2 linked regions of the Homo sapiens genome follow. The protein of the gene in region 2 purifies or fractionates together with the protein of the main gene of each other region. This does not show direct contact. Each region holds a gene or a part of one and is shown on either strand. Other genes may lie near its edges.

What was found.
Region 1: the proteins of TAS1R2 (region 2) and SLITRK5 purify together in Homo sapiens (affinity purification with mass spectrometry; one large-scale study listed by BioGRID and IntAct). This does not show direct contact.

What each region holds. Positions count from the first base shown.
Region 1 is NC_000013.11:87,674,055-87,677,243, reverse strand, and holds part of SLITRK5 (SLIT and NTRK-like protein 5 precursor), read right to left. Parts: intron 1,864-3,189; 5' UTR 1,856-1,863; coding exon 1-1,855. UniProt on the Homo sapiens protein: Suppresses neurite outgrowth.
Region 2 is NC_000001.11:18,856,523-18,861,152, forward strand, and holds the start of TAS1R2 (taste receptor type 1 member 2 precursor), read right to left. Parts: upstream 3,139-4,630; coding exon 2,957-3,138; intron 1,110-2,956; coding exon 809-1,109; intron 1-808. UniProt on the Homo sapiens protein: Putative taste receptor. TAS1R2/TAS1R3 recognizes diverse natural and synthetic sweeteners.

The sequences.
Region 1 (3,189 bases), on a different chromosome or scaffold from region 2:
CTACATCTGAATAGTCAGGGCACAGCAGCTCCGACTTAATGGAGCGCATGTCGGTCTCAGCGAATTTTTTGGGCGCCTTACAGATCACCTCGTCCACTAGGACGCCCACTTTGAGCTGCTCCACCCACAGCTTCATGCCCACAATGTCACAGGTACAATCCCAAGGATTGTCATGCAGGTCGATTTGGATGAGTGACTTCAGCTGGTCCAAAACTCCACTCACTGGCAAGGAGGTGAAGTGGTTACTCCTCAGGTTTAGCCTGAGGAGGGTCAAGCCAGAGAAGACGCCTGAGGGCATGGCCTGCAGGAGGTTGTTATTCAAGAATAGCAGCTGGAGGTTTGGGACCGGGTCAAAAGTTCCAGACTGAATCTCGCGGATGAGATTGTACTGGAGGAAGAGATACTGCAGGCTCTGCAGGCCATAGAATAACTCCGGGCTCAGCCTCTCGATCCTGTTGCCATTCAGGTAGAGGCGCCTCAGGTTGGTGAGATCCCCGAAAGCGCGGTCCTGGATCATCGAGATGCGGTTATTCCCCAGGTGCAGGAGGTCCAGCCCCGTGGCCTCCAGGAAGTCTGTCCTGCGCACGACAGCGATGTAGTTCTCTGTCAGATACATTTTCTTGGGATTGTAGGGCTTGGGCTGCAGTTCAGCGATGCTCTCGATCTTTCGCTCCTGGCAGTTTACGTTGAGGCCCAGATCAGAGATCTGCAGGTTGCAAGAGCACGCGGTGGGACACTCCAAAGGCACCGGGGATTTGGTCTGATAGGCGATGCTGGGGCCATAGTTGCTGTAGCCCAAGTCCTTAGAGGGCTGCCGAGAGGTGGGGCGCACCCTGGGCTTGTTGGGTTGGCGAGTCCCCTTAGGGGGCTTCAAAGGGGGTTTGTAAACAGCAGAGGAAGAAGTGGCCACAGAATTCACTGACGCCGGGGTGGTGTGTAAATACCCCGTGGTGCTCAAAGGCGTCTGCGGCCTCATCTCGTAGTCAGAAATAAGTCTCCTTGGGCAAAGTTCCTGCTTGGATACCTCGTCCAAGTCCCTTCCGTGTAAGCGGAAGGGGGTCTCACAAACTACATCCCCCACCAGGGCTGAATAGGAGATGCTGTCCAACCAATCCTTTAGAGAGATCAGCTCACAAGAACAATTCCAAGGGTTTTCCTCCAGCTGTAGCTCCACAACTTTATCCATGTGCTGCAAGAGCCCCACGTAGGGCAGAAGTTTCAGCCGGTTCCCCCGGAGGTCCAAGTGCGTTAAGGGCACAAAACGGAAAAGATTGTTGGGTAAACTGGACAAAAGATTGTCATTGAGGATAAGCACCTGCAACAAATGCAGTTTCCCAAAAGCATTGGGTTCAATGACGCTGATGTAGTTGTAATCGACCTGTAGGTACTCCAGGTTCTCCAAGCCAAGGAAGGTATCATCTCGCAGAAGTTCCAGTTTATTATTGTTTAGATGCAATCTCCTCAAACCCCGTAGCCCATGGAAAGCCCCGGTCTCAATGTCCTGGATAACATTGCTACCTAGATGCAAAATTGAAGCCCCAGTGTAATTGACAAACTCATTGGGATAGAGACGGTTCAAAAGGTTTCCGGACAACAAGAGGTGGTAGATTGGGAAACGGGGAGGGCTAATTTCAGAGAGACTGATGATCCCCCGGTTTTCACAGCTCACAGTTAAAATGCCGTCCTTTTCCTCACAAGGACATGCATTGTCACAGATTTCCCCATAATAATCGATGGTTTCTGCACACGAAAGGACGAGAGATGTTACAGCAAACGCTAGAGTCTGCAGCATCCAGCTATGCATTTTTCTGTGAAGGTCCTGTTCCAAAGTTACTGGGGGGCAGCAAGTGTGCATTTTACCTCCTGTAAGGGAGAGAGAAAACAAGGAAATAACAGAATATGACAAAAATTTAAGGGATCAGTCAGAAAGTCTCTCTCTTTCTTAACATTATTACTCTAAAACCCAAAAGGAAGAGATACAAATGACACACCTCCCCAAGTGAAACATTGACATTCTCTAGATTTTATTAAAATCTATTATACATTTTGATTTAAAGGTTGATTAATTTTTTTAAATGAGCACACCACAAATATGCTGCTCCTTACAAGATAAGAGCAGGTTAGATAAAGTCCCATTTTAGTTTTCTCTTCTCCCCCCCTTTTCAAAACCAATCCATAAATATACATAAAATGGCTGTCAGTTCAGTTTCATGGTTCTAATTTAAGAAAAAAGAAGCACCATTTTACAAGGTTCCCCACCTCACCTATACCCAGCCCCCACCCCCCCTTCTTTCTTTCAGAGCCTCTTCAGTTAACAGTTCACCGTGAAGGTCTCTCATGTTCACAGAGAGGCAAGGAGCCAAAATACTTGGGGTATTTTAAACCATCGCTAGAAATGCCACGGTGGGAACCTAAAGGATACTTTTCAGAGGCAAAAAGGCTGTAATATAATGCATCAAAGGAGCCCCAAGAAGCTCTTAAATCACCAATTGTCTCCCGGAGCTTTGAGTAAGGAGAAAAAAGGAGAGCGCATTTGCTTTGATGGTGGACTTCACTACCACGCTATTAAAGCACATCAGCGTCCTAATTGCATGCACGGTACCACTTAGCAGCGCTTCCCGGAGAGCGCCCTGCGACCACTTCTCATTGATCATGTCAGCGACGCTACCAAACCGCATCTTTAAGCCACTGAAATAGTTCTGCACGATGGATTACAAAGAACTCAGCGAAGGTATCCGCAATCTCCGAATACCTCCCGATGCCTAGAGTTTAAAAAGGACGTTCCTACCGCTTACCGGGAATCAGTACACCAAGGATCAGCACGAAAGCCTCCCTTACCTTGGGCTCCGCGTCTATTTGCAACGGTAATAGCAAGGTTTGCACGGAACTACCACCTCGACAGCATCCCCATCTTTGGAGTTGCTTATTACATTTAATTGTTAACGCTCCCCTCTCTCTTTTTTTTAATCTCAGGGAAAGGACGCCTGGGCTGATTAAGAGGCAAAATAGAAAGGTGGGAGGAAGAACTGTAAGCGACTTAGGTCAGTTGTTTAATATCCGAATTTCATCTCCCACAGGAATCAATATGACCCCCTCCCCCTTTTTTTTCTTGCTCTCTTTTTGTCCCCTTGAAGGCTTCCTTCCACTTCCTACTTCTGATCAACAGCAGCACTCTTAAAGGAAGGACAT
Region 2 (4,630 bases):
TAGAAGAGAAACTCCATGAGGGCGATGATTTCTAAGTTGTTGCCAGCTGTATCCCAGCACCTACAACAGTACCTGGCACATAGTAGGTGCTCAATAAATATCTGTTACATGAATGAAAGAATGAATTCAGTCCTCAGCTAGATGCTTCATGTAAAAGTACTAACATTAAACAGTAACAATCACAATATTTGTGACTACCTACTGTGTGCCAAGTCTTTTGCTAGCTGATCTTTAATGAATATATAGCCTGTACCAGTACTGCACTTGGCACTTTCAATCATGATTATGATAATAGTTATAATAATAGTAGTAATACAAATCACCCTTTTGTGAGGACCTACTACGAGGCAGACCTTGTGCTAGGCAGCTGTACAGAATAATACTAAGCACTTCAAGTTTTTATTCCTGTGCAAGATGCTTTATAAAACAACATTATTTACTACCTACTGTGTGCCAGAAATTTACACAGGTTGAACACTAACCTTCAGACAGTCCTGGGATGGAACGCTTATCATCCCACTTTACAGGTGAGGAAACTGAGGCTAGAAGAGTCAAGAGATTTGCCAAAGGCTTCACTGTGGCCAAGGCTCGGTGCCAAGTTGCACAACCAGATCTGCCCGCTTCCAAAGCCTGAGCCCTTACTCCATAAGCTGGGCTACCTTCTCAAGATTTGGGCTGATGTCCTGACCCTGCTTCTGGTCCTATCATCACCTCCCATGATTGATGGAGGAAGTGGCTTCTGAGGCCTCTAGACAGCCATTCCTCTGCCCCCCTCCCCAGGTCCTTCTCCAGGGCCCAGGGGCCTCACCTGTGGAAGGAGAAATAGGGAGAGGAAGTTGGCCACAGTCATGACAGACTCGGAGTTGTCAGGGCCAATGACAGCCACCACACGGGAAATGTAGTTACTGTAGTCCTCTTGGATGGGAAGGAGGTTGTCCTCGTGTGCCAGGAAGTAGAGCACCGGCTGGACATTGTTGGAGATGTAGCACACATCCACGATCTCATAGCCCAGCAGCACACCAGGCAGCAGGCTGCTGTCATTGTTGATCTCCTCCACCGCAAAGCGCATGGCCTGCATGAGGTTGTAGCCTATCACCTTCACTTCATACCTGGAGGGGCCACAGCATCATGAGGTGGAAGCAGATCCAGAATGAGGAAGGAAGAGATAAGAGAACCAGCCCACTCCTCCTTCCTGCCACAGGAAAGCCAAGGCATTGACTGAGAAGAGCCACTCCAGAAGACTCGGGCATTTTCACCATGTCATTGTCACCATACCACATCTCTAGGGTCACCATTGCCCATATGGCCACCACTGATACTGTTATCCATGTGGCCATCATCACTACTATCCCTATAACCTCCATCACCACTCTACCAATGTCCACCAATGTGACCATCATTATCCACTAAGACTTCCATCACCACCATCACCACTATCACCATCATCACCCACTACCCATATTACCAATATCACCACCAGGGCCATCACTGTCACCACAACCTTGTGACCATCATCACCACCATCATCACCGTCACCACCATCACTATCAGCACGACCATTATCACAGCCATCATCACCACCATCACCACCACCATTTCCACCATCACCACCACCAACATCATCATCACTACCATCACCAACGCCATCAGTAACACCCTCACCACCATCACCATCATCAGCACCATCATTATCAGCATCACCATCATCACCACCCCCATCACCATCATCACTACCATCACCAACGTCATCACTAACACCATCAGCACCATCATCAGCATCACTACGATCACCACCATCACCAACACCATCACTAACACCATCACCAGCATCACTACCATCGCCATCATCACCAACACCATCACCACCATCAGCACCATCTTCAGCATCACTATCATCACCACCAACACCATCATCACTACCATCACCATCATCACCAACACTATCGTTAAAACCATCACCATCATCAACGCAACCATCACCATTATCACTACCAGCACCATCACTGCCAACACTATTACCACCACTGCCATCATCATCACTACCATCACCATCATCACCACCATTACCACTATCATCATCATCATCACCATCATACTTTTTATCATTGTCATCATCACCAGTATTACTGTTATCAACATTATCAGCATCACCACCATTACTTTCATCACAACTATCACCATCATTATACACCCCACCATGATCACAAGCATTAGAAAACCCAGCATCATGCCTGGTGCCATCACCTTCACCATTCTCAAGCCAGCATATAATCTTCCCCAGTGTCATAAATGATGCATTTCTCATACTCAACCCTTAATCATCTTTTGCACTGTTCTTCCTTTCTCCTTGTCTCCCGCAATACCTTCACCCTCTCTGCAAGAGGTCACTCTTTTTTAGTCCCAGGCTGGCTCCATGTCCTTCGTGCTTGCATGCAGATGCACACAGCCCCCACAATCTCCAAGTGATGCTGCCACCCCAAGGGGCTCAGGGAGGAGGTGGGGGAAGAGGAACTTCCCTCTCGGCCCAAAAGCACCCCTACCCACCACAGAACCTGCTACAGAAAAATCACATTCTGCCTCCCAAAGGTTTTCAGAATGGGCTTTGACATGGACCCATTGGGAGTCCCCCAGTTGCCAAAGTGGGTGGGAGCAGTCTTGATGGCCTCTAAGAGCCCTCTAGGCTCAAACATTCTGTAACTCTATTTAAAAAAAATGGCACTGAGATGACCCCAGTCTCAGTGTTTCAGAGCACAGTCGCCAAAGATTTTGGTAACCCATATTATACGGGGCCTCCCTGAGGACTAGGGGCATGGATCCAGAATAAGGGGGTTGGCAATGAATGGGGAGGAGTGCTTTAAGCCCTTGGTCCTGGTCTGGCTCCCAAGGACCCACAGGACCAGGCCTGGCCTCCCACCCCATCCCCACTGCCACTTCCAGCCCCACACTGGAGACTCACTCCTTGCACATGGGCACCTGCAGGAAGTTAAGGTGAACAATGCCCTTCATGTTGGCATGGAGGGAGAAGAGGCCACCCAGGAGGTAATCCCCAGGCAGGTAGAAGTCCGAGTTCTCAGCCGGCTCAGCCAGGACCCATAGGAGGAAGAACAGGGAGGAGATGGTCTTTGCCCTGGGCCCCATGGCTGGGAAGTGATGGTCTCAGGAGGTAGTCCTGCCTCACTGGAGAATTGGCAGCTTGACACCAGGGTATTTGCACAGACATTTACATAGCGATGGTCCTGCCACCGACTGTGGGGCACCTGGAGCAGGTGGAGAGGTTTGGGGGCCCAGAGGGAGGAAAGGAGGGTGGAATTATGATGATTCTTTCTTAGAGCATAGAGGGGCTAGGTGGTCTAGGGGAACCCTATTTGGAAAGAGAGAGCATCCTGATAACTTGGCCATGCCCTGGCCTTCTGCCACTTGTCCAAGGACAAGTCTCATCTTCCTGACATTTCAAATATTTCAGGAGTAAAGGACATAAGTGCTGTCAGGAAACAGAGTACTGTGGCCAAAAGAGCCCAAGCTCTGGAGTCCAGCCAAGTTAGGCCAGGCATGTAGTGATGTATAGGTGTGGAGAAAGTGGTAGCCATTGTCAATAAGAACCAGGCATCATGCTGGTGTCGCGGTTCATCATCTCATATAATGGTTGCAGTAACCGGGACTATTACTAACCCCATTTCAAAGATGAAGAAATGGAGGCACTGAGAAATTAAGAAATCCAGCCCAGGCTTCCTGACTAGCAGAGCTGAGATTCAAACCACATGGTCTGACTCCGGGGCTGGGTCCTTCATCGCTACATCACATTACATCACAAAATTAGTGCTTTTGATAAAAAAAAAAAAAAAAAAAAAACCCAGCGGTGTCAAAGAGGGTGGGGGAAGGAGGGAAGGGAGGGGTGGTCTCACTCCCTCTGAAGGCTGCCATCAGTCAGCCTAGCAACACCCACTCTGGGTCCCCGACCCCTTGGACCCCACACCAAAGGGCAGGGTTGTTGGCAAAACAGAAAGTTGAAAATTCCTAAATTCAAAGGTGAATACGCCCAAGGAGTCAGAAGCGGGGAGGTGGCTCCAGTGAATTAGGGACCCATTTGAATCAGAGACCCCTGTCCATTTAGTGCTGTTTTGCTCCTTTCCAGGCCTACCAACATGTGGCCGAGCCCTAGGGAACCTGCCACACACCACATGGCTGGAATGGGTCTGTCACAGGCACATACCCGGCTGCTGCGCTCCATGGTTCTGATGGGCAGAGGCTTCAAGGTAGAAAAAGGTGATCAAAAACCCCATGATCGGCTGGGCACGGTGGCTTACGCCTGTAATCCCAGCACTTTGGGAGGCCGAGACAGGAAGATCATCTGAGCTCAAGAGTTTGAGACCACCTTGGGCAACGTGGTGAAACCCGGTCTCTACTAAAAATACAAAAAATTAGCTGGGTATGGTGGCACACACTGTAATCCCAGCTACTCGAGAGGCTGAGGCACAAGAATCGAGAATCGCTTGAGCCTAGGAGGCAGAGGTTGCAGTGAGCTGAGGTCATGCCACTGCACTCCAGCTTGGGCTACAGAGTGAGACTCCATCTCAAAAAATAAAAAATAAAAACAAATAAAAACATGCTCTCTCCTGCCCCACCCCAGCCA